2 separate regions of the Homo sapiens genome follow, and region 1 is linked to region 2. Evidence: fine-mapped expression QTL. A gene starts in region 2. The other region holds a variant in brackets. All regions are shown on one strand. Distances are from middle to middle.

Evidence for each region.
Region 1: its variant is fine-mapped to the expression of OLFM1 in whole blood (TOPMed, PIP above 0.99).

Annotation. Positions count from the first base shown.
Region 1 is chr9:134,911,271-134,916,630 of GRCh38, reverse strand. It overlaps FCN1 (ficolin 1), which reads left to right. Exons shown (of 9, transcript NM_002003.5): 2 at 170-283; 3 at 1,822-1,875; 4 at 2,211-2,246; 5 at 3,018-3,050; 6 at 3,488-3,615; 7 at 4,016-4,145. Among named protein-coding and RNA genes, the nearest start is that of FCN1, 4.0 kb to the left of the region's middle. The variant G/A (reference allele first, on the strand shown) is at 2,217.
Region 2 is chr9:135,085,478-135,090,837 of GRCh38, reverse strand. OLFM1 (olfactomedin 1) reads right to left here and starts at 3,170. Exons shown (of 6, transcript NM_001282611.2): 1 at 2,699-3,170; 2 at 494-643. The coding sequence starts at 2,848. RefSeq lists enhancers at 906-1,709, 1,710-2,514, 3,149-4,009, 4,010-4,870.

The sequences.
Region 1 (5,360 bases), 170 kb after region 2:
TCCCCTAGGTCGGGGTGGCCTCCAAAGCCAGAGCTCTGCCCCCCATCACATCTCCGCCTCACCAGTGCCTGAGGGGTGAGGACAGACCAAGGCCCCAGCAGAGCAGAAAACCTCACTTCCCAGCCACTGTTGGGCCAGGCACTGAGTGGGCACCTGTGTTTCTCTGCAGAGGTGAAGGTGGTGGGCCTGGAGGGCTCTGACAAGCTCACCATTCTCCGAGGCTGCCCGGGGCTGCCCGGGGCCCCAGGGCCAAAGGGAGAGGCAGGTGTCATTGGAGAGAGAGGTAGGTGCGGGCCGGGTGGGGAGGCCAGGCATGGCAGGGGCACTGGCTCTTGCTCTTTATGAAACTGGATGCAGAGTTGGGCAACACCCCCACCGTGGTTCCTAGATCAAGAGCCTGGGTCAGGCCCCTGCTAGAGCCAGGAACAGAGCTGACTCCCAGGGCCCAACAGGGTTCTGAAATGGAGGGAGGGTCTTTCCTAACTATTTCATGAGCTCACATTTGGACATGCTTCTGTAGCTCTGTCTCCTAGTCCTTGATCCAATACCAGCTTTGCTCAGCTACTGGCACGACTTCTAAGCTCTGTGTCCCTCCACCTTCTCACCTGAAAATTGAGGTGACCGCTTTCTTCTGCACCTGCCTCATATGGGAAAACTGAGACTCAAAGAGGTCACAGGCTTTCCTACTTGACAAACCAGTAAGGAGTGGGGCTGGGACTTGGACTGGTCTACTTCAGGGCACAGAGGGCACCCGAATCCTGAGCCCTGAGCTCTGCATGTGGATTTGCAGGGAACATGGGAGAATGAACAGCAGGCACCTGCCTTGGGTGGTTTTGGGTCCCCCTAAGCATGGCATAAGGCAGACGTGCACAAAAACTCAGAAAGGGCGCTGCCTTAGGGGGTGAGCTCCCCATGCCTGGACGCATTCAAGATGATGCCTGCGGAGCACTTGGTGGGGATGTCCCAGTGTAGATGGGACAAGCTCAAATGTCCCTATGACTTGGACTTTCACTGACGTGTCTAGGCTTCCGTGTGGGTGTCCGGGGCCAGGTCCTCTGTGCCCACTCCGCAGGCTGGACCTGAGAGTGCGGTCCCGATCCCCTGCTGAGGGAACACTGGGGAGGAAGACCTTCCCTGGCAGGAGAAGAATCAAGTCTGGCTCAGACTTCCCTTGAACCAGGCTTCTACCAGTGGGCATGGCTGGCTAATATACCCTAAAGCAAGAACCAGCCCCCATACACTCTCCCCAGCCACTGGGGTCAGCGAGCGGGCTGGGGGCTGCCTCTTGGCTGGCATCGGGGACGGGAGGGTCACCTTTCTGGCCAGAACCACGTGGAGCGCTGTGTGACACCCCAGGAGCTCAGGCGCACGGTGGAACCGGATCCTCCCTGGCAGCAGCGGCTGCACGTGGCGCCCACCCTCTCCGTGTGGGGACGTGGTAGGATGAGGCTCTCTGAGGACGCATTCTTTGTTCCAGAACCTGGTCCCTTGCTAGGCAGTAGAGCTCTGTGTGGGTGACTTGGGTCCAGGCTTATGGTCAACAGAGTGTGAAACCCAGGTTGCTCCCAAGGCACAAACAGGAGCAAGGTGCACCTTGCCTTGAGCCCAAGGTGGGGTGCAGGCCCCTCCCTCAATCCCTCACCTCCATCTGCAGTCACCCCCAGGCTAAATCCATGGCTAGCAATTCTGAGAGCTCCTGGAACCAGAAGGGGTTCAAGGCAGAGTGGGGGAGGGTCAGGACTTAACCACTTGGGGCAAAGATTTCCAGGGAGAATTGTTTAGGTTGCATTTTTCTCAGTGATATGTCTTTGGAATTTTCAGGAGAACGCGGTCTCCCTGGAGCCCCTGGAAAGGCAGGACCAGTGGGGCCCAAAGGTAACCAGGGGACAGACAGCGAGGAGGCCTTGAGCAGGGACCTTGGAGCTGTCTGTAATGAAATGAGGGAGGGAGAGACAGAGACAGAGACACAGACACAGACACAGAGAGACACGGCAACAGAGAGAGAAAGACAGTGGCAGGCGGACAGGGACCCTGGGATATTCCAGGCCTCGGGGCCCCTCCCCACCATTGAGACCTGGGCGTTGTGATGCCTTAGTGAGCCTGCAGGGCTGGGGAGATGCAGTGTCCAGGCCGGGAGCCCACTCTGGACCAGCCTTTCCGTGGCCCACACATCTGGGGTCAAAAGCTCATTATCCTGCCTCTTCCTCCAGGAGACC[G/A]AGGAGAGAAGGGGATGCGTGGAGAGAAAGGTGAGCCACCCGTGGGCCCAGGCAGTTGTCTCTGCAGGCTTTGTCCAGGGGAGGGGTCTCAGAGGCCTCAGTCCGCCTGCCCACCGCCCACGTCCCTGTCAATCCAGGCTGTGGGCAGGGAGGGGTGGAAGGAGTCCAGCGGGCTTTGTTGTCAGAATCCACGAGGGCTCAAACCCTGGTGTCTACAGCAGTCACTCCCAGTGGCCAGCAGGACCACATCAGTGCATAGATGGTGACACTTCAATATTTCAATTTCTGTCTTACTTATGCTCATTTATGCAAAAATTGTAAAAGTTTAAAAAAGCCAAATGTGCAAGACTCTAATACACTGTACCACGCTCCACCCACAAACACAAATGAAAACCGGAGCCGGGGGCTGAGGGTCCGCCGATACCTGAGTCCCAAGAAACAGAGGCCAGGGCGGAGGCAGGGCAGGCTTGGAGTGACCCTGCCAGGCTTGAAGAGTTATTCCGCTGTTATCAGTGGCGAAGGCCCCACTAGGGGTCCAGTTCGTCCAGCAGGACCCGCAGCGCCTGCCACAGCCCACCAAGCTCAAGCTGCACAGCAGGGGCCTATGGACAACCATGTGGCTGGTGCCTCTGGGGAAGTCGAGTCTGGCCATCCTTCCCTAGGCCTGTGCCACGTGTCCTGGAGACATCAGAGGAGCTGCCTTTGCCCATTCTCTATTCTGTGCTCAGGGAGCCACTGGGGCTGACCAGGACAAAGGCTCTGATTTCAAGCTTATGACAAGTGTCTCCTCTCCCCACACAGGAGACGCTGGGCAGTCTCAGTCGTGTGCGACAGGTGACTGATCACACCCTGACCTCGGTACCCAAGCCTTGCCCCCACCCCTGGGGCCAGCTGCACACGTTCACGCTACGGAATCTAAGGACAGAACCCTGTCTGCACCTATCATCCCCCCCTCAATCACTCGAGTAATGGGCAGCTATCACCTGAATCCCTTCCATGACAACCTGGGCTCTACTATTATCTACCCTAGAAGGCCGGGTGCCCAGGAGGCAAAGGTGGGGCAGACACTGGGAGGTGGGAGGGTCGGCAGACTGGGTGTGGGCATCACAGCTGCGTGGCCCTGGGGGCCGTGTCCCTGTCCAGGCCTCGGAGTCCTGCTCGGTCCGCACAGAAGCCTGTGGCCCTCCTCCTCCCTCCTGGGCCTCCCTCCCACTGCCCCTGTCCTGCCCAGGGCCCCCGTCCTGCAGCCATTCCCCGGGTTCCCTTCCCAGGCCCACGCAACTGCAAGGACCTGCTAGACCGGGGGTATTTCCTGAGCGGCTGGCACACCATCTACCTGCCCGACTGCCGGCCCCTGACTGTGCTCTGTGACATGGACACGGACGGAGGGGGCTGGACCGTGAGTGTGGGGCTGGGCAGAGGCGGTCAGCCTGGGAGTCCCGGAGGCCAGGCTGCACACCTGGTTGTAGAACACACTCTGGAATTCTCTATTCCCCTGGATGGGGACAATCATAGATGATGGGGGAAGTGACCCGTGGGTAAAAGTCCAGGCCATCGGGGAGGCTGGGAGGGGACCGGTGCTCTCCTGCTGTGTGGCTTGGGGCTTGTTGCCTCTCTTCTCTGAGACCGCATTTCCTCTTTCATCCTGTGGAGTCTGTGAGGAGACCAGATGGGCGTGCGTGTGGCACCGGCCTGTGATGCTCTGCCAACTACAAATGCTGCTCCTCTGGAGGGCGGGTCCCCGGTGCTGTGGGACCTCGGCCTGCCCCGCCTAACTCTGTATCCTGGCTTCTTCACAGGTTTTCCAGCGGAGGATGGATGGCTCTGTGGACTTCTATCGGGACTGGGCCGCATACAAGCAGGGCTTCGGCAGTCAGCTGGGGGAGTTCTGGCTGGGGAATGACAACATCCACGCCCTGACTGCCCAGGGTAGGGCCACTGCCGTGGCTCAGGGGTTGGGGGGCCCTGAGGTGCTCCTGCCCCTTAGGCCTGGGCCATCTGCAACATAAGCACCTCTTGGCCCACAGGGGATTGGGCCCTGAGCACACTCAGGTGGCACTGGGACCTCTAAGGGCTGCGTCCCCTGCCGCAGGCTCTGGCAACATCGGGAAGGGAAACGGTTAGAGCCCTGGGCTGAAGGCCTCTTCAGGTCTTGGTCCTACTGGCATCTTAGATCCTGAGAGTGGGAAGCAGGAGAGAGACCACTGGGGCTTGGGGTAGCCTTCCCCCATCTCCAGCTGTTGATCTGCCTCTGAAGCTGGCATCTTAGTCCCATGGAGAGCCCACGCTCGCCTCCTCCAGCCCACGCCTCAGCAGGCCCCCCACAGCCGCACTCACCTGAGTGAGAGGGCCTCCCCCCAACCCTCTGGGGCAGGGGATGAGTTTCACAGCTGGTCCTGAGGCAGTCTGTATAATTGCTGGTCCATTATCCCTGCCCACTGCCCTGTGGCATGATTGAAGGAATCCACTCAGGTGCCTCAAATTCCTGCAAAAGAAACTACAATTAGAGCTTCGCCCACTGCTGTGTTAGTGGCTCACCAACCCTTAGAAGGAGAAGGTACACTTTCAAAATGAAAGAATGCTCCCTTCCACCCAGTGAACTCCAGTGGGGCATGTTCAGTTCTCTGAAATAACGGGAAAGGTGTTTAGAAACAGAAAGCCATCCCTGAGGGCCTGATAGCAACAAGGGATTTTCTGACATTTCCGGTTGATTTTTTTCCTGGATGCCACGTTCAGACATCCCTTAAGAATATATCCATCCCCAGCCGGGCACCGTGGCTCACACCTGTAATCCCAGCATTTTGGGAGGCTGAGGCTGGTGGATCATGAGGTGAAGAGATCGAGACCATCCTGACCAACATGGTGAAACCCCATCTCTACTAAAAATACAAAAAAAAAAAAAAGTAGCTGTGTGTGGTGGCACACACCTGTAATCCCAGCTACTGGGGAGGCTGAGGCAGGAGAATTGCTTGAACCCAGGAGGCGGAGGTTGCAGTGAGCTGAGATGGTGCCATTGCACTCCAGCCTGGGCAACAAGAGCGGAACTCTGTCTCAAAAAAAAAAAAAAAAAAATTACCCATCCCCAGCCCTCATGCCTGGTGACAGAAAGATCTTAAAGGCTGGGGCCTTAAAATCTTTTTCCAA
Region 2 (5,360 bases):
CATTCAAGGGCAGAAAAAAGATCTCATCTCGTAAAATCCAAATGGCCATGCATTCCTGGGCCTATGGGCGCTCTCCAAGGTAGCTGCTGGGTGACAGCCCCAGCCCTGTGCACACAGATTATGACATCACTCAGAGACGAGCCTTGTGTCCCGTCTCACCATGCCCATGTGACTTCTCAGTGGAGCCTGTGGTGACAGGGGGCAGGTCTAGTCCTCTCTTCCTGGACCACCCTTGGAAGTCTCAATCCACCTGTGTGTCCACCCACCCATCCACCCATCCGTCCATCCATCCACCCACCCATCCACCCATCCGTCCATCCACCCTTTCACTCATTCACAAATATTTTGAGTGGAGACAAACCAGGAAAGAGTCAAAATGGGGCCTGCAAGCTAGCCAAGCCTTGGTGCTGGTGTGAGCACACAGGCATGTACACACACACACACACACACAAACACACACACATACAAACTCACACACTCTGCGCAGACTCACCTTCTCCAGTAGCTGCCTCAGCTGTTTTGTGCGGGCATCCCGTGAACACATGGTCTGCTGTGGAGCGACCACTGTGCAGATACACCTGCCCTCGCTGTCCTGGGCAGAGCTGTACACCTGCCAGCTCTCCTCAGGGTTGGTGGGCAGCACCTGGAGAGGGGCGGGGCGGGAAGGGAGAGGGAAGGAGAGAAAGGGAGACCATGAGGTTGTGTATCAGAGCCAACAACCAGGGGAAACTGTCCACATCCACCCCCAAGGAAAAGATGGGAGGAAATGGTCCCAAGACATGTTTGACCCAAAGGGAAGAAAGGGTCCCTGGGAACAAAGAGGCACAGGTCTCCTGTTAGGGGGCTCAGGGCTGGAAGGATGTCAAAGAGGCAAGACCCTTTACGTTCTTAAAATTTAAGTTCAACTCAAGGGATGTCTGGAGTTTGTCGTCTGGCCAAATTGATCTGCTGGGTGGATGGGAGGGGCAACTGGAGGCCACAGGCTGGACTAGGAGCAAGGCAGGAAAGCAAACGCTGGGTGGCTTGCAGCGGGCACGTATTTCAGAAACAGGATATCCTTCCCGTAAGTCAAGCACGGGTGGCTGGCACCACCAAGCCTCGCCCTGCCGTTCCCTGACACTTGCAGACGAAGCACCCACTGTAACAGCCCCAGATCCAGCAGCCTATTCGCCCAGAGCTGTGATGAACCCCGAGCTACAGCAACCTCCCAGCCGGCAGCGTGGCACAGACCGACCCGAGAAAACACTAGGTTTCCAGCTCCTTGTGGGCTCCCCCCACGAGCCATTTGGTGGAGGTCGCCAAATTGCTGGTGACATGCTGTGCAGGGGTCACCCCCAACCTCAGTCCTGAGGTTTGCCCAAAGATCACCAAAGAAACCGGAGCTGCCCATGTCTGGTCTAACCTTGCAGCCCAGCCCTGCCAGGTACCGGGGCGGGCACTCCTGAGCCTACACAGCTCCATCCTGCTGCTGGCCCTACTGTCTCTGAGCACGCTCCCCTCCGGTGGCATCAGGTCATCTCTCTGCTATTTTTAGCATGAAGATGGGGAGGAGAAGTTGGGCGGGTAGAATCTATAGTAGTCATATCTTTAATCTCATTCATTCCCAACCCCAGAAGATCGGGACCGGCAGGCCGGAACAAAGTCATCATGGAGGAATCGCCCTCCGATTCCTGAAGGAGCAGGGAGGGCGGCCTCAAGAGGGGTCTTAGGAGGGAGCCACACCACGGAGCCCTCTTCGCAGGGCACTAAACCCCTGGCAGCAAAAAGAGAGAGGGAGGGAGACTCACGTCCTTCACCTCTCCTTTCAGCCTAAAGGGCCAGTGGTCTGGGGCGCGCCTTCCCGGCAGCGGCCCCTTCCCCGCGCGGCCCTCCGGGTGGCGGTTTCAGCTCAGCCTCGCTCAGCCATCTAAGTCAGCTCTGCCCAGAAGCAGCCCCGGCCACGGTTCCCCTCCCGCTAGGCTCGAGAGGGAGACGCGATTTCAATTTCAGAGGCCAGGAGGGAGGGGTGCGCGCAGAAGACGAAGGCAAAGGCGAGGGGGTGAGCGCCCAAGGGCAGGCTCCCAGGGGCCCCACCCAAGCCCCTCGGCACCGTCCTCGGAGGAGAAGGAACAAACCCTCCTATGGACTGGGGAGGAAAGGGCGCCTTGGGACTTTGGGAATGCAGGCGCGGGCAGGAGCTCCGGAGCCCACCGGCTGGGGCCCCACTCCCAGCCCGGTCCGGCCAGTCTGGCTTTTACAAACTAGGGCGGGCTCAGTCCCCGCTGGACCGAGCCCAGACTAGGGTCTAGCGGCGGCTCCACCCCTCACTCGCTGAGTGTGACCTTGGACAAGTCCCCAAGTCCCCAGCCTTAGTTTCCTAACCTTTTCAATGGGGGGCTCATGATTACTGACCCAGGACTCCAAGCCTCCGAGAACCCACCAAGCTCCCCCGGCCCCGCGGCGAGGGGCCCAGACGAAGGAAACGCCGCCCCAGGGGCGCGCGGGCGGAGATGGAGTGGCCCAGGCTGGGGGAGCGGGGAGCAGGGTCGCCACCGCTGCGCCGGCCCGCGACGCCTGCCCTTGCCCGCCCTGCTCCCCGCCGCCTCCCTGGGCGACTCGGGTCCCGCGCGGCGCCCGCCCAGCCCGGGGCTCCGGACCGAGGAGGGGGAGGAGGAGGAGGAGGAGGAGCCGCGCCAAGGCGGCCGGCGGGCGCACTTACGCCGGTGCTGCGGTCCAGCGTCCCGCCGCCGGCCGCCGAGAGCTTGGTGGTGTTGAGGCCCACCAGCGAGGGCAGCGTCTGGGACATCCAGTTAGTGATCATGGCCATGGTGCTCAGCACGACCCCGATCTTGAGCAGCGGCACCGACATCGCGCCTCGAGCTGCCTCCAGCGCCCGCTCCGAGCTGGCACCGGCTCCCGCGCCCAGGCGGCCTTCAGGCGGCGGGCACCGCGGCGGGCAGGGGCGCCTGGCTGTGTCCCCGCGCCCCCTCGGCCCGCCGCCGCCCGCCCGCCGCCGCCGCCGCCCCGCGCGCCCCGGCCATCGCCGCGCCTTCCCCGGGCGCCAGGGAAGGTGGCCAGGTGGCCTCTGCCCGCCGCGCCCTGCGCCTCGCGCCGCCCGCCCTGCGCCCTGCCTTGCCCGGCTGCGTCCCTCCGGGCTCCTCCGCCGCCACCGGGAAGCGCCGTCCGGCTCTGAGCGCTGCGCGGGCTGCGCGCGGGGGCCGCGGCCGGGAGGCGGGGCTCGGCCGGGCGGGACCGACGCAATCCGCCCAGGAAATGGGTGGATTTTTCCTCTCGCTCGGCTCCCCGCCGCCCCCTGGCTGCTGGCAGCGAGGTCTGCAAACTCCAGTCCGCCCAGGAGTTGGGATCAGGGTGACATGAGGAGACGGACACACCACCACCCCCAGATCATAAAATACCCGGCGGCGGCGCGGGGACTCCAGCTGGGGGCACGGCCCGCGGCCCTCCCGTCCCGGGGCTTCTCCCATCCTCACGCCGGGGCATCCCTCTCCGATCCCCGCAGAGGGTCCGCTTTGGGGCAAAGGTTGCCGGCAGAGAGACGGCGCCGTCCTGCCTACTGGAGCCCTTTTCCGCGGTGATTCGAGGGTCCCAGCCAGCCTGGGCCGTCGCCTGAAACCCAGCAGGCAGGGCAGGCTCCGAAAAGCAGCCAGACTCGCGAGGGCCTCCAGCGCCAGGGGGGCGTCGGGGCATCGGTGGAGAGCTAAAGGCGCCCCTGCGATCCCAGGGCAGCCGCGGTGCCCTAAGGCCTTGCTTGGGAGGAAGGGAGCCAACCGGCACTCCTGACACCTGCACAGCAAGGCGGGGGCTGGGGTGGTCTGCCGTGGCCCGCGGTGCGCAGTGAGGGCCCTGGGAGGGCGCACACCCGGCAGGAGCTGCATAAGGTCTGGGGCTCAGGCCTGGACCTCAGGAGCTGAAGGGACCACGCCCATGAACCTGGTGTTGGGGAGGTGGGTGTGTGGGGCGGGGACTGGGGTCTGTGGTGGAGGGGTGTGGGTTGGGGGGTGTCCTTACTGACTCAGGGGTGGCGCTCGAGTCATGGCGCCCAGGCACAGAGGCAGGGCAAGTGGCGCACGCTGCCCCTCTTCCCGGCCCTCTGCGGCGACCGCAGCAGGACTCACGCGTGTCAGTCCCACCTGAAGCGCAGGCCTGACTGGGTCAAACACGTTAATAGGGCTTTTGCATTTACAGAAGGCTTCTAATCGGAGATGAAAGCCACTTCCTCCGGGGCCTTCCATTAAGCTTTCCCAGCCATTTGGGAAGGAAAGAATCCTCCAGATCACTCACTACACTCTTCTCTGCCTGGGCGAAAATTAATCTCCCTTCCTGGATGGGATTTGAAAGACGGACGCCGGGCCGGAAGGAGCGCGCCTCCCTGGCGCCCGCCTGAGAGGAACAACGCCTTCCTGGGGCTTTTCTCTCTGTGTGCGCAGTCCTCGGCTGAAGAGACTTCAGCTGCAGCCAAGATGATCCTGGCCTGAGTGCTGGGTGTGAGACCCGCTAGTTAAATGAGCCCCTCAGATCTGCTTTTCTGATTAATGCTGTAATCTCAGGCAGCCGGGCTGGGTCGGATGCCAGGAAATTCCAACTGTTGGGGAAGGGCGCCATCTCCCAGTGTAAGCTGGGACTGCAGGCCCGGCTCACAGACTGGGCCCAGGCGGAGACACAAGTCCGGTTGGGCTGGCTTCGCCCCCCTCCTCTGGCCATGCATGTTTAACACCGATTCAAGGCCACAAGCCGTGTCTGTCCAGATCACTCACGCCGCTTCCCGCTGCGGAAGGACAAGGACCACTTGTTCTGCGGGAACAAATTCAAATGCAACCCAATCCAATCCACAAAACTGTCAGGCCATCTCAGAAGCCATAGACATTTATTTATTTAACGAAGTAAAAGATTAACCTGCACTTGGACTGCTCTAACCTGCACCTGAGCGGCTCCAACCTGCACCTGAGCGGCTCCAACCTGCACCTGCTCCAAACTGTCCTGTCCAGTTTCTAAAATCTGTGATTCAGTGGGCATAATGGTTTTGAAAGGGTCGTCAGATAAGGCTTGAGTAAGTGTAATTGGATTTAGAAGGCCATGGAGCATTCCAGAAGGAAAGTATGGATCGTTGAAGAATGAAGGCATTTGGATTAGGGGATCCATGGCGCCAGGCAATACCAAGTGTTCCTAAAGAGGACTTTCAATCCCAATTTCTTCACGACTTCTCTTAAAGCCAGGGCTCATCACACCTGCAGCTCTGAACAATCATACGGATGCTGATGGGGCAGGTGCTGCGCCCCTGGTGGCACTGGGGCTTTGCCATGCCTGGCACCCAATCCTTACTGAAGTGCATGGTGTGGTGGCATTGACTCCACTGTATAGAT